Homo sapiens: one gene and its partners. The protein of the gene in region 3 purifies or fractionates together with the protein of the main gene of each other region. This does not show direct contact. Each region holds a gene or a part of one and is shown on either strand. Other genes may lie near its edges. The genes, in order: CLPB, SMC1B, REC8, SKP2, ISY1, SMC1A and CAMK2D.

Region 1 (3,500 bases), on a different chromosome or scaffold from region 3:
GGTAAAGGGAGCCTGACCATCCTTGCTAGAAGGAAACTTTCTGGAATTCCTACAGTAGGTCCTTATTCAGCCTTTCTGTACCCTAGACTCTGTACAGGTGGTTCATGCTGCTCTTTATTTCTTCTTCAATGTCCTGGGCTCTTAGCTCTGCCCAACAGACCTGCCTATAGCAGGACAGAATCCCATACTCATTTATTTCTTTGAATTTACACATACAGTCATGCCTTGCTTAACAATAGGGACACATTCTGAGTAGTGCAATTTCATCACAGTGTGAACATCATAGAGTATACTTACCCAAACCTAAATGGTAATAGCCTACCACACACCTAATCTATATGGTATAGCCTGTTGCTCCTAGGCTAGGAATCTGTATAGCACGTTATTGCCCTGAATACTGTAGGCAATTGTAACATAATGGTAAGTATTTATGTATCTAGACATACCTAAATACAGAAAAGGTCATTTGTTGCACTATGATGTTGAGACAGTTACAACGTCACAAGAGGATAGGAATTTTTCAGCTTCATTATAATCTTATAAGACCACCTCATACATGCAGTCTATCGTTAACAAACACATCATTGTGTAGCGCATGACTGTAGGTTACACATGGTTGGGTCACTGTGTATATGATTGATATGGTCAATAATATCAGTATTTAGAGCAAAACTCAGACCTCGTAAATAATGTCGTGCTTTACCCTTCTTCCCCACTTGACCTCTCTGGGGCTCTGTACTGTGTCTGCCTCTACTTGACCTCCCCCAGCTCCTGTCCTTAGCCCCAGAGTCTTGGGAAAGTTCTGGATAGTGAAGGGCAGCAGCCTAATGCTCTTCTGCTCCCAGGGGGAGGTATTCGATCCTCCTCTTTAAGGACACCCTGGAATCTTCAGTCCATGGGCCCTGGATGTGGGTCCTCCACAGATGGCCCTCTGCCATCTGTATTCATTATCCTCTGCTTACACCTTTCAAAGCTCTAGTGCTGCTTTCCTTACAGAGCCTTCTTGGATTCCTCCCAGCTGGGTGTGATCTCATCTTCCTTTGCCTCTTCCCCCCACTCTGATCCTACACCTGCCTTCTGGTCTGGGAGGGTATGAGGGTGATCTAGAAAGGACCATGGCAGCTTGTCACAGGAGGGAGCTCCTTTTGTGGAAGAGAAGCTGGAGGTCAGGTTGGAGAAGTAGAGCTGAATGCCACTTGCCACACTGTTCTTTATATGAAGAAGTCTGTGGGCTATATTTCATCTGAAACTGCTGGATTGTGCACCTCCTGAAGGGCAGGGACAAGGTTGTGTTCTCTACCGTCTTTTACCCTGTTCCACAGCACAGCGGCACTTACTTGTTTTTTGTGACTCTTTCTTTGCTTTTTATTGACTTTTCAGTGTACCTGAAGTAAGCAGTCCAGAGGCTTTCACACTCCCCTTGGCTATATCAGAGGGAGGCCAGGTCTCTTCTCTTTCCTCCCTCCCTCGCTCCCTCCCTCCCTCCCTTCCTGTGTGACATCCATTTCCTCCCTTCTCCCCTGAGGCACTTAAGTTCATCCATCTCTGGTTCCTCAGAAGTGGAAGCCTGGCCTCCTACCTGTCAGCAGTGTGAGCAGGTGGTCCTGCTCCTGGGCTTACCCCAAACTTGAGCCTGAGGAACTGCTCACCCGAAACCTAGGGCACAAGGCAGACTAGAGGCACATCTGTCCAGGCTCAGGCCAAGCCATGTGAGGAGTTGTCAGGACTGGGACTGGGAAAAGTGAGGCCTCCTGTTCTCCCGGTGGAGATCACATTTCCTTCAGCACAAAGTGGGTGAAAGACAACACCCCTACCCATCTCCCTTCTCCCAGCAGGGGGCTAGGCCTCTGCTGAGTGCTTACCTCAGTTGTTCATCAGCCCAAGCAGTCTCTAATAAAGGAAGCCTGGCAAGATCAGTCTTGGGCCTCAGACTGCCTGCCCTTTTTCTCCAGGATTTATTTATTCATTTGACAAACAGCATCTGCCATATCCTGAGTCCTCTGCTTGGCACAGGGAACACTTAAGCAGTCATGGTTCCTGCCCATGATGACAGAGTCGGGGTAAACTGTGGCAATAGGGTGGTCAGTGCTGTGAGACAGGAAACTACAGGGGCTGCAGGAGACCAGAGGACAAACAGCCTGGAGGATCTGAGAAAGACTTCCAGAGGAAATGGCACCTGATCATAGACTTAAAATATCAGTTGGACTTTGTAAATAGAAGGGGAAGCCATTCCAGGCAAAAAGGGCAGCATATGTGGTAGCATAAGGCAAGGAGCAGCCTGGGGGGTATGCAGAGGGGAAGTCACTTGCTGTTCGGTGTTGCTGGATCACAGTCTGAGGCCAGGAGGGACTGGAGACAGGTAGCGACCTGGTCGTGGAGAACATTGATTGACTCTCCGTTTGTCCCTCAGTCGCCCATCTGTCCAGCCTGTGCTTTGTGCCTAGCCCTGAGCTGAATTTGTGGCAACAAAATGAGGAAGGAGAAACAGTCCCTGCCCTAGAGGAGCTCGTGTGCCCTCTGGTGAGGAAGAAGGACATGAGTCAAACATTGAGAGCCAGTGAAACAAGGAACAAATTACCTACCTTCCAACTAACATGAAGATGATAATAACTAACCCCACAGAGTGGCAGAGTCATTATTACTAATAACAAAATGATTAATTCATTCAGCCAATACTTACGAGTGCATATTCAGAGCTAGGCATTGGGCTGAATGTGGCAGTTAACAGTAACGAACAAGATTGGCACAGTCCCTGCCCTCTTGGCACAGTCTAACTAGGAGTCAGATAACTAATTATGCAACTGTAAAATTAGTAGAAAGAGTTTACTGGGGCCAAGTTTGAGGACTGCAACCCAAGAGTCTAGATTCAAGTTGCCATAAATATATGCTCCAGATTAGCAACAGTTGCAAGTGTGTTTTTAAAGGGAAAAACAAGAGACACTTTTTTGTTGTTTTTGAGACAGAATCTCAGTCCGTCACCCAAGCTGGAGTGCAGTGGCACGATCTCGGCTCACTGCAACCTGCGCCTCTTGAGTTCAAGTGATATTCATACGTCAGCTTCCCGAGTAGCTGGAATTAGAGGTGCATGCCACCACACCTGGCTAAGTTTTTTTTTGTGTTTTTTTTTGTTTTGTTTTGTTTTTTTTGAGACGGAGTCTCATTCTGTCCCCCAGGTTGGAGTGCGGTGGTGCGATCTCGGCTCACTGCAAACTCCGCCACCCGGGTTCATGCCATTCTCCTGCCTCAGCCTCCCGAGTAGCTGGGACTACAGGTGCCCGCCAACGCGCCCGGCTAATTTTTTGTATTTTACAAAGAGACAGGGTTTCACCATGTTAGCCAGGATGGTCTGACCTCGTGATCCGCCCGCCTCGGCCTCCCAAAGTGCTGGGATTACAGGCGTGAGCCACCACGCCCAGGGTATTTTTGTTTTTTTTTTAAGTAGAAATGGGGTTTCACCATGTTGGCTAGACTGATCTCGAACCCCTGACCTCAAGTGATCT
Region 2 (3,500 bases), on a different chromosome or scaffold from region 3:
TAGTATACACAGGTATTTCCTAGTTCCAACAGCTGAGAAAGCCTAGAAGCAAGGACACTCCAGTAGCAACGAACACACCTACCACCTAGATGTTGGTTCCTAATACTGTTCTCCGATAAAAGGAACCAGGGTTCCTTGGAGAGCCTGGGGCAGGCTCATACAAGCTGGGGCAAGCTGATGCTTGGACTGGCTTATACAAGATGACAGTAGAAGATACTTATCTTCTAGAAAGTAAGGAAGAGCTCCAAAAAAAAATCACAGTAATGAGAATATTTCAAAGGGACACAGGAGCCAACTCAAAGAGTTCTCAGTGGCCACAGCAGGAACAATCTAAGCAACAAAATCAACAATGTAATACTGGATTATAACTCTAAATGTAAAATATCCATAAATCTATACTGATGTAAACAAATAACAATTAATTTAATTTTAAAATAATTAAGTAGAGACAAATCTGTGCAGAATTCCAAAAAAATCATGTAGATACTTTGCCCTCAAGGTAAAACATAACTCTCCTTACTCCTTAAGTGTGGGCTAAGCATAGTGACTTCCTCTCAAAGATTATAGTATGAAAAGGGAGAAAAAATAACCTCACAGAGGAGAAACATGACAAAAACTACTTCAGTCAGGTGATCAAGGTCAACATCAACAGTGATACCATGTTGATATGACACATGATATAGTACATGATAAATGTCATGTAACATATATAATACACTGACACTCTGATAGAATATAATGAGAAGGACATTTTACTTCTGTGGGCTTCCTCCCCACAGTCTGTATCTTCAGTCTAATTATGTGAAAACCATCAGACAAATCCGGATTGAAAGATGTTCTATAAAAAAACTGACCAATATTCCTCAAAATTGTCAAGTTCATCAAAAACAAGAACTGTCACAGCTAAAAGGTGCCTAAGGAGACATATAACTAAATGTAATATGGTATTCTGGATCATAAAAAGGACATTAGGCAAAAGCTGAGAAAATATGTATAAAGTATGGACTTTAGTTAATGTATCAATATTAGTTTATTAATTCTGACAATGTATCATAATAATGTAAGATATTAATAATAGGAGAAACTGAGTGTTGGGAATATGGGACTGATACAGGGGCTAAAAATAAATTATTTAGGCAGATAGTGAAGGTTAAGAGAGTCCTCAGCAGAGCTTCCCTTTTAACGAAAAGCAGCCCCAAAATCATTTCTTTTCTAACAAAGAGGAGCCTGAAAAATTAGGCTACAAATGGGGTACATAAGCAAGCTGGAAGCTTACACGAGTGAATGCCGGCAGCTGAGCCAATAGAAAAGGGGTACTCAGAAGCCAGCTATGTTCAACATGAAGGCTCCATCTTCCCTTTTCTTTGTCACCACGTGTACAGTAGAAAAGCTGGCAAACATGGCGCCAGCCAGGTACAGAATCTGCATAATAAAAAATTAGGGTGGGATGGCCAGCTTCTTTGTGCACTATGCAAATGGCACATCTAGTCCTAAGCGGTTCTTCACGTGCTATGCAAATGGAATACCTGATCTGAACAACCCTTCATGCCCTAAATCAGACACCGCCTCCTCAAGCTCATCTATAAAACCGCCTGTACTTCACTGTGGACCAGAAGACCCAATTGGGAGCCCCTCTCTCTGCATGAGAAAGCTTTTCTCTTTCTTTCACCTATTAAACCCACTCTTAACCTCACTCCTTGTGTGTCTGCATCCTTGATTTCCTTGCTGTGAGGCAATGAACCTCGGGTATTACCCCAAACACCACCACTTCAGGACCATTCTACACCACCTTTTTTTTTTTTGAGATGGAGTCTCACGCTGTTGCCCAGGCTGGAGTGTAGTGGCGTGATCTCGGCTCACTGCAAGCTCCACCTCCCAGGTTCATGCCATTCTCCTGCCTCAGCCTCCCGAGTAGGTGGGACTACAGGTGCCTGCCACCATGCCCAGCTAATTTTTTGTATTTTTAGTAGAGACGGGGTTTCACCGTGTTAGCCAGGATGGTCTCGATCTCCTTACCTCGTGATCCACCTGCCTCAGCCTCCCAAAGTGCTGGGATTACAGGCATGAGCCACCACACCTGGCCTATACTATCTTTATAATTTTTCTGTATATCTAAAAGTATTCCAAAGTAAAAAGCTTATTTTTAAAATCAATTTTCAAAGTGTCACTTATATTATTCCCTCTATCAAGCTACATATAACCCAACTGTTAATATCTACTTTTAAAAACTCACTTTAATTCTTTTTCTGTTTGTTGTAGTTGTCTAGTTAGCATTCCATGTTCCTTTTTCCTGGCTTTAACTATGTTTTCATGATGAGACAAAGACTCTCTTTTGACACTCAAATCCCTATTCACATGCTCTAACTTGGTGTTCAGGAGATGAATCTTTTTCTCATTATGGTATAGTTGAAAAAGCTGCAGTTGTATCTTGTTCATTTTCAGTTCTTCAAGGAGACTCTGGTAACGTTCTGCCTATAAAAGAGTATAATTCAACAGCAGTTAAAAGGGAGTGTATTTAAGTTGGCCTTTCATAAACTCAACTACTATACCAACAAATTAACTAATGAATGTTTATTTATTAGGACATAATGTTCTTGCCAAAAGTAGCATAATTTGGCGAGGGTTTCTGAATATACTTTTTAAATAACCCAATACACCAGCAAATGATTTTGTGTTCTTGCGCTCAGTGGTATGATGATGAGAACAAAGAAGTGGCATGCATTAGCCTGGGTCCCTTTTGTCTGGACCTGTGAGTTTCACAACTCAATCAGTATTTCTGGCATCAGCTTCCTCCTTTGTAAACTGAAAGAAGAGTGTGATATGACTTATAAGGTGCTAGTAACTTTAAATTCAATGACTCCAGGAAAAATTCCTACTACAGGAAGTAGTTTTTCTACCGATAAAACAGGACTCTTACAGTGCTAAATTATATGTGAAAAATAATAATTTCCTTAACATTTGTGCTATTAAAGAAATAAAGGAACAGGCTACCTCAAGAGGAGCTCCTAATCAATATTGGAAGTATTCAAAGTAACAGGCTATCCACTAGGATGTTGTAAAAAACAATTAGGAAGTTGTTTCGTTCTAACTGTCCTTAAAATGTTTAAATTTTGCAGTTCAGTATATTGTGATTATTATAGTCTGACTTCCACTGCTGCCACTCCTTTCCACTAACAAAACCAAGGACATGTATACATATTAGAAAACATGAAGACACAGAGAAACATCACTAATAAGAAACATCCACTTTCCATTTACTTCTTCAAATATGTATTGAGTATCTACTATGAGCCAGGTGCTGGTCTATGCATTGAGAATATAGCAGAAAATAAGACAGACTATCCCTGATCCTGTTTGTTTGTTTGTTTGTTTGAAACAGAGTTTTGCTCTCTCACCCAGGCTGGAATGCAATGGCACGATCACAGCTCACTGTAGCCTCGACCTCCTGGGCCCAAGAGATCCTTCTGTGTCAGCCTCCTGAGTGGCTGGAAAGACAGGCG
Region 3 (2,838 bases):
TAGATGTGGCTCCCGAGCTTCTGCGTATCTGCAGCCTCATTCTGGCTGACAACAAGATCCCACCAGGTGAGGGTAGGAGTCATAGGCAGGGGCTTGCGGGAGGCTGGGAGTGGCAGGGCTCAGAGAGCCTGGGGCAGCGAGGCTTTAGGAGCCCCGACCTTTCTCCCTCCCTCTCCACCCAGACACCAAGGCCGCACTGTTGCTGCTCCTGACGTTCCTGGCCAAACAGCACACCGACAGCTTTCAAGCAGCTCTGGGCTCACTGCCTGTTGACAAGGCTCAGGAGCTCCAGGCTGTACTGGGCCTCTCCTAGACTGCAGGCTGCAGCCAGTCCAGAGAGAATAGAGCCTGCCCAGGCCTTAAGACCACCTCTCAGCCCAGTTCAGTTCTGCCTTACCAAAGATTCTGAGACTCATACCCATTTGGAGCCAGCCCCACTTGCTGCCTTACAGGGCTGTCCCTGAGGCTGGATCTGTTACAAATGAGTCATGACATCATACTGTAATAAAAGCAGCTTGTTTTCTGCTTGAACAATAGCTCTGAGAGCAAGAAGGCTGGAAATGCACATTCAGAAATGAGGTAAGCAGGACCCAGTGAGGCACGACGTGGTTTACTAGAAGTGGCCGGTTTCCTGGCAGCTTTGTAAATGGACTCTAACCTCAGTGGAATCTGGGCCCCGGCTGGATCAGGAGGCGACCATATGGCTTTTCTTGTTTCACGTGAAGAATCTGTTGCGCTGAGAGCACTGGTCAAGAGGCGAGGAGAGGGCAGGTCGGGGGAGTCCCTGTACGGGCCTCTGGTCTCTGTGTCCCTGCCCCACATACACACACACACATGCATACACTCACCCAGGAGCAGGTAGAAGACCCGGGCAGCCATCCTGCGGGGGCTGAGAGGTGACACCAGGCTGCTGAAGTCGGGCTCCCTGTTAGCCTGCAGCTCCAGTGCCACTGCCCTATAGGGATCAAGAACCATTAGCAGAGGCTTCAGCCCGGGTCCACCCCATCAAGGTGCCACCTCCCTGGTACCTGTGCACTGCTTCCAGTGAGAGCAGCTCGAGCTCTGGGGGCAGCACCAAAGGCATCTCCATGGGCACCTCAGGGAGTTCAGGCACCACGGGCAATGCAGGAGCTTCTGGCGCCTCCACCTCAGGCCAGGCCCTAGGAGGACATGAGAGAGTAGGGAAGGTGGCAGCTGTGACAGTGACAAGGGGCATACCCATCCCAGCAGCTGTTTCCACCACCTGGCCAAGGGCTGTGGGCCCTGGCTCCCACGGAGCCTGGCCGCTTACCACCGTTCTTCTGGTGGGATGAGGCTGATGCGGGACTTCTCCTCTTCAGCTGCCTCTAGGGAGATCTCTGTTGGGGGAGGAAAGGCGCTAGTGGGTGTCTGCTTGGGTGGCAGTTAGGGCCTTGTGGCCACCTGGTGTAAGTAGATGGCAGAGCCGTGCGGTGACTTGTTAAAAGCACATAGGTGGGAGAGCTGAGGAGGACCAGTCCGTGCTTCCTTATGTCACACACACACGCCTTCACTCATAAAACAGCTTCAGCAGTTGGGATACTAGTTTCCTGGGACAGTGGTTAGGGTGTGGTCCCACTGCGCCTCTTCTCTAGGTGCTTACCTAAAGACACCATAAGGGGAACACTGGGCTCCAGGGCCTCCCTCGGGACCTGGGGATGGGAGAAGTAGAACTAAGACCCCAAGCATCTGGGACTTGGGCCTCAGAAGGCACAAGGCCAGTGAGCCTGTGCTGTTGGCTCTCATAGCAGGAGAGGGCAGCCAGCTGGTCAGGCAGACCCTGGCACTGGGGCGATGCAGTAAACAGGTGGTGCAGTTACCTCAATCTCACTTGGAACTTCAATCTTTCTCCTTTCCTCCTCAGCGGCTGCCTCCTCAGGCAGCTCTCGCCTGAGGGCTTTTGGGGGTGGCTGGGCACAATGGGTCCAGAGACCCAGTAGTTCAGGGGGTAGCCAGCCAGCTGTGGACAAGAGGGTAGTAGGCACGGGGTTTGAGGCGTGAGGAGCACCAGGAATGAGGAATTGGTTTTGAGGATACTTCGTGCCCAACCCCCACCATTCTTACAGAGAGTTGGGGTTCTGAACAACTCCGCAGGGCCTCTGATGGTCCTCTCGGGCGGCTGCACCATAGGCTGTGTAGTGGGGGAAGGTCAGAAGCCCCATTATAAAGCAGCCACTCCTCAGGGCCCCTTTGCCTCTTTGCAATGCACTGTTCTGGGGCTTCTGGACTTCCCCAGCTTTTGCGCTCATGACCCTGCCTGCCCTGCTCATTGCTAAAAGAAGGACTTTTTAACCTGGTGCCCATGGGTATGACAGGTGGGTCACTAAAGGAGCATGAAGAGTTGTATATGTGCAAACCCACATCGCCTGCATTTTCTGGAGAATGGAGGAGATTTTTCATCAAGTTCCCAATCCTCCCCCCACCCACCTGAGGAGTTTGGAAGGCTCAGCCTGCATGTGCCCCTGGTCATCCCTGCCTCCCTCCCTTCCCCGGCAAAGCCTGGGCTGCACTCACACATTCCCAGCAGTGGGCTCTGGTTTGCAGTTGTTCCTGGAATTTCTCCGGGGAGATCTGAGTCTCCTTGTCCCAGAACAGTAACCGGCGACGACGGCGGCGGCGAGGAGGTGGGGGGACTGGGGGCCTCCTCTGTTGAGTGGGGAGGGCAGGTAGGGGCAAGGCTGCCCATTACTCCTTTTCCTGTCATTCTGGTGGACTGCTAACAGGACCCCACACCCGCCCCTAGAGGAACCTGGAGAGGGCTTGTGCGGGGTCTCCATGCACTTGAGCAGCTCATACCTTGCATAAGGGTACCCATCTGGG
Region 4 (3,500 bases), on a different chromosome or scaffold from region 3:
TAAGATATCCTTAAGAGAGTGGCACACTTTTGTATCTTTCTTGCCCAGACAGAAATCCATTTTGGCCTCCAAGGTATTGGTATTGACACCAGATCAGCACTGCTCTGGTTGTCTTGAATCTCATGCTTGATGTTTCCTCTTGCAAGAAGGCAAACTATAGCTTAACCAGCATTCAATAACAACAACCTGGGAGAAGTTTTGGAACAATTCATTTTCTTTCCAAATAATATACATTTTTTAGGAAGATGAACACCTCACAGAAAAATGAATTTGGGAGCTACCTGAACCCTAAGCCAAGCATAACTAGATATGGTATGATGGTTAAGACCGTGGAGTTAGCCAAACTTTAGATTCCTGCCTTTCCACTTATCTCTCAACCTACTATTCCTGACCCTGCAGTTTCCTCACCTCTGAAGCTGAGATGACACAAACACCATCACTTAAAATCATATGGAGGATTAAATTGCAAACACTGCACCTGTCACAAAGCAAGTGCTTAATAAATGTCAGTAATTACTTTTATGACAACTGAGATGAAGTTTAACAGACTCTAAGGGAGATGTAGGTCAAAGAATACAAAGCCACAGATATGCAGGATGAACACATCCCAAGATATAGTATACAACAGGAGAACTAGAGTCGATAATACTGTATTGTAGTCAGAATGTTTGCTAAAAGAGTAAATTTTAGGTGCTTTTGCCACAAAAAATAGGTAACTATGTGAGATAATGAATATGTTAATGATAGCAGCCATTTCACATACTTATAACAAAATATCATGCTGTATACCTTAAATATATACAATAAAATTTTAAAATGGGATTAACAGACTCTGCAAGAAGAGGATAAATGCATAGCTGGCAGAAAAAGAAAACCAAAGTGGGGTTGAGTGCGGTGAGGGTAAGTGAAACTTGCCTGCCACTTGCACCAGCATTCCAGGTGTGCAACCCTCTCTGCGGCTCTTCTAAGCAAACAACCCACACCTGTAAATAGCAGCACGCCCTTGAAGGCAAGAGGCTCCTGCTATCTCACACAGGGAGTTCTAAGTATGTGGAGGGAGAAGCCAGACGGATGGCCTTTAAACACAAAGCAAAGAATGACCAGGAGGTAGGATAGGGATGAGAAGGCATGAAGATAGTAAAAAGTTCCAGTTGATAAACATAGCCTTTTTCTTGCTCCAGGCCTGTTATTGCCTTTCCAGCTCACCAAGTCTTTCCACATGCAACTCACCTTCCACACTTGAAAAGTGTTGCCAAAAAAAGAGCACAACCCCACCAATGGCTACTCTGTGTGGAACATGTCTGTGAGTCAGGCATTACACCAGCATCTTCACATTTCATCCTCATAACCAGTGGTTTCCTCCTCATAACCATTATCCCCATTTACATATGGGGAGACTGAGGCTCAGCAGTGTCAACTAACTCACTCAGGTCATGCAGAGCGTAAGCAGCAGAGGCTGGGTGTGCACTCGGGTCTAACACCAAGCCTGTGTTCCCTCTCCCTATTGTGCTCACTGCTCAGCCCAGCGGCGTGAGGAACCGCTGTCTGCATGCACCTCTGTAACTCTCTCCGCACTTAAAGCACACCGCCTGGCCTACAGTCAGCATCCCATAAACACATGCTGCACTGAATACAGGGCAAAGAGGTTTCCAGACATTGGTAAGTTTATCCCTCCCAGGAAATTCCTCTTCCACTGTGAAATGAGGACACTGATTAATAAAAATATGAAGATACCTAGTTTGCTTTGCGCTGCTCTATTTTTCTTGGTTTTTAGTTTCATCAGACCAAAACGAATAAATAACCTTCCTCTCCTCTTCCTCCCCTACGTTTGCCAAAGGGGTGAAAAATACTTACGCTAGGCGATACCACCTCTTACAAACACCAGAGACCTTTAGCAGCTCAGGGAGGCACAGACAGGAAAAGATTCCCAAGAGCAGCTCATCCGGAAGGGAGTCCCATGAAACACCTTTGGAGGGAAAACAAGTGTTTGCCATCACCATTCTTTCACCCTATCAAGTCTACTGAGTCTTTTCAAACACATAAAGAATATACAACATTTAGCTTAAATGAGGAATTTAGCACAAATTAAATTACTCATCCTCACAATTATTTTTGTTTGAAAAATCATTTCTGTTGAACAGAAAAATAATTGTGGTGATGAGTAATTTAATTCGTGTTAAATTCCCCATTCCATCATCTATGTACCCTGAAGTGACCACCACACTCTCTCAGCAAATCAAAAAGAGAAACCCAGAACACTTTTCCTATTCTTCCCTTCAGCTCTAGCCAGCCAATCGGAGGCTGTGGCATGAAGAGTGGTACAGAGCAAGTCCCACCCTCTCAAATGTCATTCAATGACATTGTCAATTCATTGACATCAATAAGATATTGTGGTGCTTCTGGGTGCAAAGGAAGGCCTTGTTTCTCTCTGATGTGGACTCAGTAGTGACCTTATTTAAAAGGCAAATAAATCTTCTTCCCTTTCTGCTATGGTTGGCTGTGTCCCCACCCAAATCTCATCTTGAATTGTAGTTCCCATAATCCCCATGTGTTGCGGGAGGGACCCAGTGGGAGGTAATCAAATCATGGGGACGGTTACCTGGTGATAACCGCCCCTGTAATTTGATGCTGTTCTGGTGATAAGTGAGTTCCCACAAGATCTTATGGTTTTACAAGTGGCTTCCCCGACCCCTTTGCTCTGCACTTGATGCCGCCATGTGGAGAAGGACGTTTGCTTCCCCTTCCACCAAGCTTGTACGTTTCCTGAGGCCTCCCCAGCCAGGCTGAACTGTGAGTCAATTAAACCTCTTTCCTTTATGAATTACCCAGTCTTGGGTATGTCTTTATTAACAACATGAGAACAGACTAATATGCTTTCTTTCAGGTTTACAAAAGGCACAGTTTACCTAAAAGAGCAATACAAAAGGGTATTGTCATTTCTTAATTCAACAAATATTTACTGAGCTCCTACTATGGTGCCAGGTATCATTTTAGGTGTTGGGAAGGAGTAGTAAATCAGACCCAAAACACTACCTTCGTGGGACTTCATTCCAGTAATGCGGAACAGATAATCACACATCAAAAAATAAGTACATTATATGATATAGTAAAATTGATCTGTGCTGTGCAGAAAAATTAAACAGGGCAAGGGAGAGAACAGAGAGTTCAGAGCAGATGTTATTAAGTTTGAACATGGTGGTCAGGGAAGGCCATACTGAGATGACGATCACTAAGCAAAGGCTTGAACAAAGTGAGGGAGTGAGCCCTGTGAGTATCTGGTGTACGTGTTCTAGATCCAAGGAACAGCATGTGTGTTTGAGGCATAGCAAGGAGGCCAGTGTAGAGCGCAGAGGTAGGTGGGTAGAAAAATCAGAGAGCAGCCAGGTCATGCAGGCTTCCTAGGTCATGATAAAGCCTTTGGCTTTGACGCTGAATTCTATGAGGCACCACTAGAAGATTCTGAGCACAGGAATGACAGGCCCTCACGTAAGTTCAAAAAG
Region 5 (3,500 bases), on a different chromosome or scaffold from region 3:
TTTTGTATTTTTTTTTAGCAGAGACGGGGTTTCACCATGTTAGCCAGGATGGTCTTGATCTCCTGACCTTGTGATCCGCCCGCCTCAGCCTCCCAAAGTGCTGGGATTACAGGCATGAGCCACCGCACCTGGCCTAAAAAAATAAAAAAATTTTTAAGGCCGGAAAGGAACATACCAAACAGATAATAATGGTTATCAGTTACCTCTAGGAGGGGCACTGGGATGAGTGTAGAGGTAAGAGGACTTTAACTCTATCTGTGCTATTTGAATTATAACCAGTAAAATTCACTTATGCATTTTCTTTCTAAAACAAAAATCTTTTCAATAGATGACAAAAAAGGAAAAATAAATTTAAAAACCCAAAACTCTATCACTGGAATAAGCAAAAATATATTTAGAAAAATGTAAATGCAAAAAACCTAACATATAGAGCATAATCACAATATAGGAGCCACCCCAACACAACCCTTTAGAAACTGGAAGGAACAGCCAGGCGAGGTGGCTCACTCCTGTAATCCTAGCGCTTTGGGAGGCCGAGGTGGGCAGATCATGACATCAAGCGTTTGAGACCGGCCGGGAGCAGTGGGATGTTATCCCAGCACTTTGGGAGGCCGAGGCGGGCGGATCACGAGGTCAGGAGATAGAGACCATCCTGGCTAACACGGTGAAACCCCGTCTCTACTAAAAAAATACAAAAACTTTGCCGGGCGTGGTGGCGGTCACCTATAGTCCCAGCTACTCGGGAGGCTGAGGCAGGAGAATGGCGTAAACCCGGGAGGCAGAGCTTACAGCAGTGTGCCGAGATCGCATCACTGCACTCCAGCCTGGGCAACACAGCAAGACTCCATGTCAAAAAAAAAAAAAAAAAAAAAACTCGAGACCACCCTGGCCAACATAGGGAAACCCTGTCTCCACTAAAAATACAAATTAGTACTGGGCACAGTGGCTCACGCCTGTAATCCCAGCATTTTGGGAGACCAAGGCGGGCGGATCACAAGGTCAGGAGATTGAGACCATCCTGGTTAACATGGTGAAACCCCGTCTCTACTAAAAAAACACAAAAACTTTGCCGGGCATGGTGGCGGGCGCCTATAGTACCAGCTACTCAGGAGCCTGAGGCAGGAGAATGGCGTGAACCTGGGAGGCAGAGCTTGCAGCAGTAAGCCGAGATTGCGTCACTGTACTCCAGCCTGGGCAACAGAGCAAAACTCCATCTCAAAAAAAAAAGAGCTCGAGACCACCCTGGCACCAACACAGTGAAACCCTGTCTCTACTAAAAATACAAATTAGTACTGGTCACGGTGGCTCACGCCTGTAATCCCAGCACTTTGGGAAGCTGAGGCAGGTGGATCACGAGGTCAGGAGATCGAGACCATCCTGGCTAACACGGTGAAACCCCGTCTCTACTAAAAATACAAAAAAAAAATAAAATTAGCTGGGCATGGTGGCAGATGCCTGTAGTCCCAGCTACTCAGGAGGCTGAGGCAGGAGAATGGTGTGAACCCAGGAGGTGGAGCTTGCAGTGAGCCAAGATTGGGCCACTGTACTCCAGCCTTGGTGACAGAGCGAGACTCCATCTCAAAAACAAAAAAAAGATACAAATTAGCTGGGCATGGTGGCATGCGCCTGTAGTCCCAGCTACTTGGGAGGCTGAGGCAGGAGAATTACTTGAACCCGGGAGGCAGAGGTTGCAGTGAGCCGAGATTGCACAACTACACTCCAGCCTGCGCAACAGAGCAAGACTCCATCTCAAAAAAAAAAAAAGAAAGAAAGAAAGAAAGAAACTGGAGGGAACAATGCCCTAATGTATTAACAATCATCACATATGAGGTGTGAAAATGTGAGTGGTTTTTTTCTGATTTTCTGTATTTTATAACTTTTTTTTGTTTGAGATGGAGTCCTGCTCTGCTGCCCAGGCTGGAGCGCAGTGGGACGATCTCGGCTCACTGCAACCTCTGCCTCCCAGGTTCAAGTGATTCTCCTGCCTCAGCCTCCTGAGTAGCTGGGATTACAGGTGCCTGCCATATGCCCAGCTAATTTTTTTTGTATTTTTAGTAGAGACAGGGTTTCACCATGTTGGCCAGGCTGGTCTCGAACTCCTGACCTTGTGATTCTCCCGCCTCAGGCTCCCAAAGTGCTGGGATTACAGGCATGAGCCACTGCGCCTGGCTATAACTCCTCTGTAGTAAAAAATATATTCCTTCATAATTAATGGCACAATATTTAAACTCTGAATTATTTTTAAGGGATGGTAGTGGCCTATGCAAAACTAGCTGTGGAATAATGAATTTTAAAATAAGCAGCATTTAATAAAAATAGAACTATATTTTTTTTAAAATAGAAAAGCCAACTAGAAGGAGATATAACAAAATGCTAATAATGGTGAAAATACTGGCATCATTCTTCTCTGCCTCTCATACTTTTTCCTATGAAGTGTTGACTACCTTTCTAAAACACAAAATCAAAACCGACTAAAACTCCAGACTAACAGTTTCAAATTATATTCAGGAGGTTTGGCTGAAAGAAGGAGGAAAGGTGGGTGTGCCCTATTTGGATTCACACAAAAGTAGCTCCACTTTTCTCCTTTTTTTTTTTTGAGATGGAGTTTCGCTCTTGCTGTCCAGGCTGGAGTGCAATGGCACGATCTCGGCTCACCGCAACCTCCACCCCTCAGATTCAAGCAATTCTCCTGTCTCAGTCTCCTGAGTAGCTGGGAGTACAGGCATGCACCACCATGCCCAGCTAATTTTGTATGTTTAGTGGAGACGGGGTTTCTCCATGTTGGTCAAGCTGGTCTCTAACTCCCTACCTCAGGTGATCCGCCCACCTCAGCCTCCCAAAGTGCTGGGATTACAGGCATGAGCCACAGTGCTGGGCCTCACTTTTCTCCATTTTTACATTTAGGGTTTGGCCCAAGATTGTATTTGTTCTTTGGTTATCATTTGTTCAACTAATAAGTAACTGAAACATGACCTGATTCAATGAACTTCAGAGCCTGCCCCAATCGTTCTGGGAAACTTCAAATAGGGAAACTCCTTGTCCAGACTGACAGATTAGCACCTGCCAAAGGCAGAATCCTGCACCAGCCAATCCTGGGCACACTTTCCAGCCCCAATTGTATGGCATGGGCCTATGATTCTATCCCAGTTCTTAAGAATTCTCAGTTAAAATCTGGGAACAATAATTCCTACACTATAAGGCTGTTATGCAACTAAGAAAAAAAAGTAAGAGCAGTTAGCATATAGCATATCTACTCTTATGATTATTACCAATGAAAGGCTAAAACTGTCACAAACTTACTTACGTTCTTTTTCAAACAGCTCTCTAACACCAGGCAAATCTTTTGCTGCTCCAAAGTACTTGTAACCTCGGTTTCCTGGGACTTCTTTTCCTTCATGATCCAGCATTTTAGGGCCAACTTTCTTATTGGGAAGAAAAAAAGAGAAAATGGATCTGTTAGTTAGTTAGTTAGTTATTATTTATTTATTTATTTGAGGCGG
Region 6 (4,006 bases), on a different chromosome or scaffold from region 3:
TTGCCTCACCTAGACGTCCATTATATCATCTTCCACACTTAGTGTGCTTAACCACTTACTTATCTGAGTTCCCAATTAAGCCAAGAATTCCTGGAGGGCATGTATATCTAATTCCCAGAACCTAGCACAGGGCCTGACACATGACAGGAATTTAACATATGCCTGCTGAACAAATGGATGGAAAAATGATGCATGAGTGAATACAGGAAAGAGCAAATGAACTGGTAAATGCTTACATTAATGCATTAATGAATAAGTGAGTGAAGTTGTGAGTTAGTGCATATATAAGGTAATAAATAAATGAGTGGATGAATGAATGATAAAAATAAGTAAGTGAATGAAAGGTGCCCATGCCAGTGAGGCAGGAAAGGATGAGTGAATTCCCACCTCTGTGTCTTGCTTCAACCCCACCAGGAAGACCTCTTGCCCTGCTTTCCTGTTATCTAAACTGCACACCAGTGTTAACCTTTTAGATTCCAAGGAACAAAGACACACACAGGTTAGTGATGGGGATTTATTAAAGCATTCACAGGGAAATAAGGAAGACAAGAACAGCTACACAGGCAGCCTCATGGAAGAACAGAAACTTGAAAATGGTTCATGATCCAAAGCAGCTCTAGAGCCTGGCTTATCTTGTCACCCCCTCAGCTGCAGGCATCTGTTGCTCCCTTCTCTAGTGCTTCCCAAATTGGTGACTCAACTCCTTTCTGGCTGTATTTATACTCCTCCTACTGCTACTGACTAACTTCTTTCTGCCCCCCTCGATGCTAGCCCATGGCTTTTTCTGCCTCATGGGTCCTGCAGCTTCATGGCTCCCGGCGCTTCAGTTCCTATTAATCCATGGCTTTTCTGCATTGTAGCTCCTGCTGCCTCTTCCATTCCTGTTGCCATGTTGCCACATGGTTCTGGCTACCTTGTGGTTCTTGCAGTCTCATCGCTTCTACTGTCTCATGATCTTATCTATTCAAGCCTTCTGCTGCTTTGTGGATCTCATAGTCAGTTTTGTCTCACGGTTTCTGTTCCTCGTGGCTCCTATTGCTTCATGGCTTCTAGCCCATTGTTGCCTTGCTGCTTCATGGCTTCTGCCACCCTGTGGCTCCGTGATCTCATTATACAAATGTCTCATGACCTCTGCTTACTTATGGTTTCTGCAGCTTTCTCTTTGCTTTTGCTGTTTAGTTTCTGGCCACCCCTCATCCACCACCACTAATGCCTCATTAAATTCTAATTAACGTTCACTTCTTCTGAATAGCTCACATTCTGCCTCCCTGAAAGATCTGGTTGTTTCATACATTTGCCATTTGATACATGCCACCCCTGTAAGGTGAAGTCCTTATGCCAGTCCAGCTAACAGGCCACTGGCCAGCCTAGAGATTGGTTGCCCTTGAACCAGACACTATCCACATCTAGCTATCTGTGGCCAGGATTGTGAGGTCACATGGTACAGAGCATGGCAACTTATGCTAAGGAAACCCCTTAGAAGGGACTGCAAGCATGGCAGGTTTGCTAAGGGTTTCCAGAAGGGGGCAGTGTAATTGGCAACCATCTTGTTTGACCTGTCCAATACATTGACCTTCAAGGTTCAACCTAAGTCCCACCTTCTCCCTGACCACCTCTGCCTGTCCTGATCTACAATGGGATAGATCAAGATCAAGACTCCAGAGATGACATAGAAAGGAAACCTAGCTTCCATTTCTGGCTCCAACACTTCCTAGCAGTCGGACCTTAGGAAGTTAATTCCCCTCTGAGGACCTCAGAAGGGGTTTGGGCAGTCTTCCCTTACAAGTCTGACATTCTGGGTATCTCACTATAAGTTATTGTATAAGAGATGTGACTCTTACCTGGGAAAGCCCTCAAAAACATCTCTTGAGGTAGGAAAGAGGGAGTCAGAGTCCTGGCTTGGAAGAGCCTTACTGCACACTGGAGGTGCTTAGCCAAGATTTATTGAACTGGATGAATGAATCAATGGCTTGTGGAGGGGTGGGGAGTGGGGGGGCAGTGAGAGACCACACAGCACACAGAATGTCTAACTAACTTGAGGAATTCCAGTTGCTGAGGAGGATGTAAGCAGATTGTTTCAGAGATGGATAAGGAAAGAGATGACTGGGACAGGGTAGGAATCATGGCTATTCATGGGTACTCATTCTATCCTCTCAGTCACCCTCCACATCCAATAATCAGTCATTAAGTTATCATCTTACCTTAACAGTTCACACCTTAACACCTCCAATCTATTCCTACTGGCCTTTGCCCTAGTGCAGGCCTCCTGGTCTTTTTCCAGTCTCCTAGCTAATCTTGTCATCTCCATTCGCTCTCTCACAAATGGATTCACTCATGCATTCATTCATTCAAAAACTTTACTGGGTGCCTGTTTTGTGTCAGGCACTGTGCTTTTTTGCAGGGGCTATACTGGTAAGCAAAATATCCCCAGGCCCACCCTTGTGGTGCCTAAAGCTTATTCAGAGACAAAATAAGCAAATATAGTAGTGTAAGAAGCTGATTAACAGGGAAGCTACAGGCACGGGCACATACAGCATGAACATCTAACCTAATCTGTTTTCCATGCTGGTTGGCTAGCCAGCCAGAAACAGGTTAAGTTCACATCTGATCTGGAGTCCCCCTATTAAAAACCATTTCATGGCTCCCTCACTGCCTTCAAGCTATGGTTTCCAAATCTGGCTGTACCCTAGTCATGTGGTAACCTTTATAAGCATTCAAGATTCCAAATCTTCACCCCAGACTTAATGAATGTTTTAGGGGCCGGGGCCCAGAATGCCGTACCTGTTTGTGGTATACAGCCAGTTTGGGAACCACACTGTCCTACAAAACAAATCTGAATTCTGTAGCCATGCATTTACGACCCTCTTCCAATCTGGTTCCTCTCTACCTTTTCTTGCTGCTTTCCCCCCACCCCAGGAATCTTCATGCTTCAGTATTTGTTTTGCTGTTTCTTGCCTTCATGTCTTCATGCATACTGTTTCCAATATCTGGAAATTCCTTCTACTTCCTCAACTGGCTAATTCCTACCCGTCCCTCAAGACTCAGTTCAGGTATCACCACCTAGACTACAGGATGCCTTCTCTGAATCTTCACATAAGCTAGATGTTTTTCCTGTGCTCCTGTCAGTGTTGATCACACTGTATGGTTAATGGCTGTTTTACAAATGGTTTCCCCAACTAAACAGTGAGCTCCTCAAAGGCAGGATAAAGATTTGACTCATCTTTGTGTTCCTGGTGCACAACACTGTGATTTCCAGAGGGAAGTGCCCAGTTAAACTTAAGATACTGTTGTGGAGTACTCTTCAACTCCCTACAGCAAGGCTACTGCGTCCACAGTATAAGGGAGTCAAACTAGTTCCTCCAACAAGCCCTAGGGAATCTACTCGGATCCAGCTTGCTCTTGGAAACACTGTGGTGCCCAGCCTCCCGTGAGCATAGCCTTGACAACGGTTGCCCTGTGATGCCAGGAGGTGGTGGGGCACGACAGGAGAGAGCAGGGGGCAAGCACTAAATAGATCCGAGTGGAAGTCTAGGCTCTGCCACTAAACCAGTGGAATCTTGGACAAGTCACCTCACCTCCTGGATCCTCAGGACTTAAGTCCCCAAAGCTCCTTTGTAGCACATGTGTTCCTGTGTGCCAGGGCCTTAGCCTAAGGCATCTCATGTAATCCTTTTTATCCTGTGAGGTAGGGGTTAGTTATCTGGGTTATTATCCATGCTGGCTGAATCAGATTTCCAGAGGTGGGACCAGAGCAATTTATTTTTAAAGAGCTCCACATCCTTTGGATGTGGGGGTGCAAGCAGGGAACTGCTGCTTCTCATTATAAGCCCTTCTGTACTATTTTATTTTTTTACCTGTGTATATATTGCTTTACTTTTTAAAAAGGAAAAAGAAAAAGCTTTACAAACGATTCTGATGCGCAGCCAAGGTTGATAACCACCTGTACAGTGGAGAAAGCACTTGAATGACTTGGAAGACCTGGGTTCAAACCTTTTTGGGCCTCAGT
Region 7 (3,500 bases), on a different chromosome or scaffold from region 3:
CAGCTTGGGCGACAGAGCGAGACTCTGTCTCAAAATAAATAAATAAATAATTTTAAAAAAAATTTTATCAGACATAGGAAGAAAATAATTTCCTGTTACTAAACAAATTCCAAATAAATTAAGCATTGCCTATATTTAAGAGGGTAAAATTATATACTAATATATGAGAAGTAATGTATTTTATTCCATGAGTTTACACATATACCACACAAAATAAAATAAAATACAATTTACCTAGAAAATGGCTACATATATTTATTCCATGAATGACTGGCCCACTGAGATCAGCCAGTTAATTAAAAAACCCCAGGGTATGAAGAAATAAAAAGAGGTTTCTCTCCTAAAAAAGTTAGGGATGGTGATTAGCTCTCGGGGAGATACAAAGGATAGGGATCAACAAAAAGCACACAGGTAGCTTCAAAAGTAGGGAGAATGTTCTAGTTATTGAGTGGAGGCTTATTGGGTGCTTATTGTTATAAAATTAAATATATATGATATAATTATATATATCAAATTTTATGCAATAAAACTTTTAACATTCCTATGTAATCAATGTAACTGAAGGAAAACAGGAAACCTATTGTAAAACAATTAACTGTATATAAATATTATATCACAATACTTTGTGTACCTTTATACTACTTGCTGCACCTAAGTTATTTTTTCAACAAATATAGAACTTGACAATTTTATATTTTTCTTTAAATTGCCACATTTTTGTAAGAATTTGCTACATACAACAATGTTGTTCAAAAGGAAACTACAAAACAACAAAAATTTGTCTTCCATTGTTCACTGGTTAAACAAGATGAACCAGAAGAGTAGAACAGCTTTCTGAGTAGGTTTCTCTGGGCTTCGGTTAAGGGCTGAGTTTTAGTTTGCAGTGACAACTGAATCATTTAGAAGAAGTAATCCTAGAAACTTACTGTATAGTGAGATATTTTTAATCAGTTAATGAATTAAGTTTACCAAAATACTGAACTCCTCTTTAACCATTTTCCTACCATTTTATAATAACATTTTTCACTATATTGTTGTCCTTCCAGAAGACAGCATGGAGGGACTGTCTGAAACTTCACTTTGATCTTGTTATAGTAGCATTTAAAAGACTATCTTCTCTCACAGGTTGGAACTCTAAATGTATTTTCCCAAAGAAATACTCAATCCCCCACACTGCAATGGGAAGATAAAATGTAAGGCATAGTGCTTTGTATGAAGGACTCTGAAGTTTGTAAGATCAGTTAAGCACACACAGGTAAATACAGACAGATTAAGATAAGTCCTCTCTAATAGCAATCAACAGGAGGTGACAGTGGAAAGAGTCAGAATTTACAGTCAGAGAAAACCAGATTGAAATCCTGACTCTTATCACTTACTAATTTTGAGGCCTTATACAAGAGCCTCAGTATTCTTTTTTAAAATGGACATAATATTGTTCTAGGAGGCTGCAGTGTGGATTAAATAAAATAAAACAAAGTATCTTGTAAATATATACTTATTGTCTCATAGAAGGGGCTCTTCAAATAATGGCTATTAATATTTATATTTTTCTAAATTATTATTAATGATGAAGATGGCATTATTGATTTTGGTAGTAATAAACATAGTTCTAAGGAGTTAAAATGAGACTGTAACACCAGAAAAGGGGCTCAGGTAACTAAAAAAATCAGTGATGTCATTGTGTCATTGTGTGTAATTACAATGATAGCTAAGAGATTTAAAAACAAAACCAAACAAACTTAACAAAAAAGCTGCCCTCTCTCCTCTTCAAACCTACCAATTTCCCTATGCTAGAGTAAGAGAAGTTATGGCAGATAAAAGGTCTATGATTTCTCCTTAAGTATTGCTAAATCTCTCAACTGGAATTAGAGGAATTTTGTCACTTAAGAAACAGCCTACGTCATTTAAAATAATTTTATTCTAAAAATAACTGTATACTGATAATTACAACAAATTTACCATATGAATAACATAACATTTTGTTATAATCAGATATTTAAACTACTTTGAGCAACTTCCCCAAATCATTTATTTAGACTTTTTTTTTCGGTTGGGTGGGGGCGGGGGTGGTACTTAAGCCCCATCTACATTATAGCTTTCAAAATTTCTTTAAATCAATACTATATGAAAGGCTTTCTTTATCTCCCTGGGCAGAAATAATCTTGTCCTCCTTTAAGAGCCCATAGTACTTTATTCATGCTTGAATTGTAATGCCATTCATGTCTTCTATTATGTTTATTTAGGTAGATAGCCTTTATTTTTCCTAACACTGTCCACTGAAATCATTTAATATTTATTAAATAAACACATAAAGACATGTGAATATGCTTAATGATCTATAAAGTGATTTGAAATATAAAGATATGTTTTACAGTTAAAATATTGCTAATACTCCATTTAATGCATTGCAGTGTAGTTTACTAGAAATACTATTGTAACTTAAAATCTTTAACACAGCCTCTATATAATCATTAATTGCCAATGATTTATTAAAACACTGCATACATTACACCCTAATAAATGGGGAAGACTGATGTTAAAAAATATACCAATCCAGCCCTAGAAATACTATGAGTCAACCTCAGTATAAGCCCAAGGAAGACTTTAAAAATAAATTAAAATTCTAGTTAACAAAAAAGTTAGATGCCCAAGAAAAGCCCAGTACATGTAAGATTTCTAGTAATTCGTGATTATTACCATTAAAAAGATCCATAAAAGGTGACATATTGCTAAATTTTAATTTTTATATTCAGTTTATTCAACATTTCAATGGAAATGAGAAGTATTAATCTAATTGTCTAAACAAAGTTCTCACACAATCAGGTAGAGGTTTACACTAGTTATTAATATCACAGTATGGCACCTGACAACCACTTTCTTTATTTTCTTCATTTAATGAAATACAGAAAAGAATTCTATTATTTCCTGGAAGTGTGGATATACTTTTTTTTTTTATTATTTGTGTCTCCTAACTAGTTCTGAAGAGCAGTAATGCTTTCATTCAATGAAAGAAGAAAATGAATGTTTAATATCAAGACCTATAGAAGAATGTAAATACAACTAAACGTAAGTAAAGGATACAAAATAATAAGGATGACACATGCCACTTCTGGGTCCATAACTGAAGAGTTGTGGAGATTCTATGTACAAATATAAAAATGATTTACTAATTTTTTTCTTAAAATGTTGTTCTTGCCAAGAAACCTTCAAATTTTAATTTGTCCAAATTGTTCCAATTTGCCAAATCAATAATGTATAATCAGAACTTAATCCATCTACATAGTCTCAGTTCTACTTCCAATTCAAGACAAGTAACCATGAAGTTGAGAAATTACAGTACTTTCTTGACTGCCTGGAAGCCAAAAATAAAAGAAAAGTAGCAAGAATTAGTTTTTAACATCCCTTTTACAACATCAAAAAAGGTTACTTAGGGATACACACACACACACACACACACACACACACACACAAAACATTTAGATTTTATAGATGAGGCCTAA

What was found.
Region 1: the proteins of REC8 (region 3) and CLPB purify together in Homo sapiens (affinity purification with mass spectrometry; one large-scale study listed by BioGRID and IntAct). This does not show direct contact.
Region 2: the proteins of REC8 (region 3) and SMC1B purify together in Homo sapiens (affinity purification with western blotting, with the first as the bait; one study listed by BioGRID). This does not show direct contact.
Region 4: the proteins of REC8 (region 3) and SKP2 purify together in Homo sapiens (affinity purification with mass spectrometry; one large-scale study listed by BioGRID and IntAct). This does not show direct contact.
Region 5: the proteins of REC8 (region 3) and ISY1 purify together in Homo sapiens (affinity purification with mass spectrometry, with the first as the bait; one large-scale study listed by BioGRID). This does not show direct contact.
Region 6: the proteins of REC8 (region 3) and SMC1A purify together in Homo sapiens (affinity purification with mass spectrometry; 2 studies listed by BioGRID and IntAct, with this or other methods). This does not show direct contact.
Region 7: the proteins of REC8 (region 3) and CAMK2D purify together in Homo sapiens (co-immunoprecipitation; one large-scale study listed by IntAct). This does not show direct contact.

What each region holds. Positions count from the first base shown.
Region 1 is NC_000011.10:72,424,532-72,428,031, reverse strand, and holds part of CLPB (mitochondrial disaggregase), read left to right. Parts: intron 1-3,500. UniProt on the Homo sapiens protein: Functions as a regulatory ATPase and participates in secretion/protein trafficking process. Has ATP-dependent protein disaggregase activity and is required to maintain the solubility of key mitochondrial proteins.
Region 2 is NC_000022.11:45,400,100-45,403,599, forward strand, and holds part of SMC1B (structural maintenance of chromosomes protein 1B), read right to left. Parts: intron 2,473-3,500; coding exon 2,234-2,472; intron 1-2,233. UniProt on the Homo sapiens protein: Meiosis-specific component of cohesin complex. Required for the maintenance of meiotic cohesion, but not, or only to a minor extent, for its establishment. Contributes to axial element (AE) formation and the organization of chromatin loops along the AE.
Region 3 is NC_000014.9:24,177,917-24,180,754, reverse strand, and holds the end of REC8 (meiotic recombination protein REC8 homolog), read right to left. Parts: coding exon of another isoform or gene 2,815-2,838; exon of another isoform or gene 2,665-2,814; coding exon 2,533-2,664; intron 2,150-2,532; coding exon 2,083-2,149; intron 1,979-2,082; coding exon 1,839-1,978; intron 1,671-1,838; coding exon 1,622-1,670; intron 1,359-1,621; coding exon 1,292-1,358; intron 1,161-1,291; coding exon 1,029-1,160; intron 956-1,028; coding exon 849-955; coding exon of another isoform or gene 746-848; coding exon 660-745; downstream 1-659. Other genes in the region: IPO4 (importin-4), read left to right, coding at 1-66, 183-313. UniProt on the Homo sapiens protein: Required during meiosis for separation of sister chromatids and homologous chromosomes.
Region 4 is NC_000005.10:36,162,111-36,165,610, reverse strand, and holds part of SKP2 (S-phase kinase-associated protein 2), read right to left. Parts: intron 1,967-3,500; coding exon 1,855-1,966; intron 1-1,854. UniProt on the Homo sapiens protein: Substrate recognition component of a SCF (SKP1-CUL1-F-box protein) E3 ubiquitin-protein ligase complex which mediates the ubiquitination and subsequent proteasomal degradation of target proteins involved in cell cycle progression, signal transduction and transcription.
Region 5 is NC_000003.12:129,137,064-129,140,563, forward strand, and holds part of ISY1 (pre-mRNA-splicing factor ISY1 homolog), read right to left. Parts: intron 3,423-3,500; coding exon 3,305-3,422; intron 134-3,304; coding exon of another isoform or gene 68-133; intron 1-67. Other genes in the region: ISY1-RAB43 protein, read right to left, coding at 3,305-3,422. UniProt on the Homo sapiens protein: Component of the spliceosome C complex required for the selective processing of microRNAs during embryonic stem cell differentiation. Required for the biogenesis of all miRNAs from the pri-miR-17-92 primary transcript except miR-92a.
Region 6 is NC_000023.11:53,373,649-53,377,654, forward strand, and holds the end of SMC1A (structural maintenance of chromosomes protein 1A), read right to left. Parts: 3' UTR 501-4,006; downstream 1-500. UniProt on the Homo sapiens protein: Involved in chromosome cohesion during cell cycle and in DNA repair. Central component of cohesin complex. The cohesin complex is required for the cohesion of sister chromatids after DNA replication.
Region 7 is NC_000004.12:113,751,739-113,755,238, forward strand, and holds part of CAMK2D (calcium/calmodulin-dependent protein kinase type II subunit delta), read right to left. Parts: intron 3,353-3,500; coding exon of another isoform or gene 3,303-3,352; exon of another isoform or gene 2,735-3,302; intron 1-2,734. UniProt on the Homo sapiens protein: Calcium/calmodulin-dependent protein kinase involved in the regulation of Ca(2+) homeostatis and excitation-contraction coupling (ECC) in heart by targeting ion channels, transporters and accessory proteins involved in Ca(2+) influx into the myocyte, Ca(2+) release from the sarcoplasmic reticulum (SR), SR Ca(2+) uptake and Na(+) and K(+) channel transport.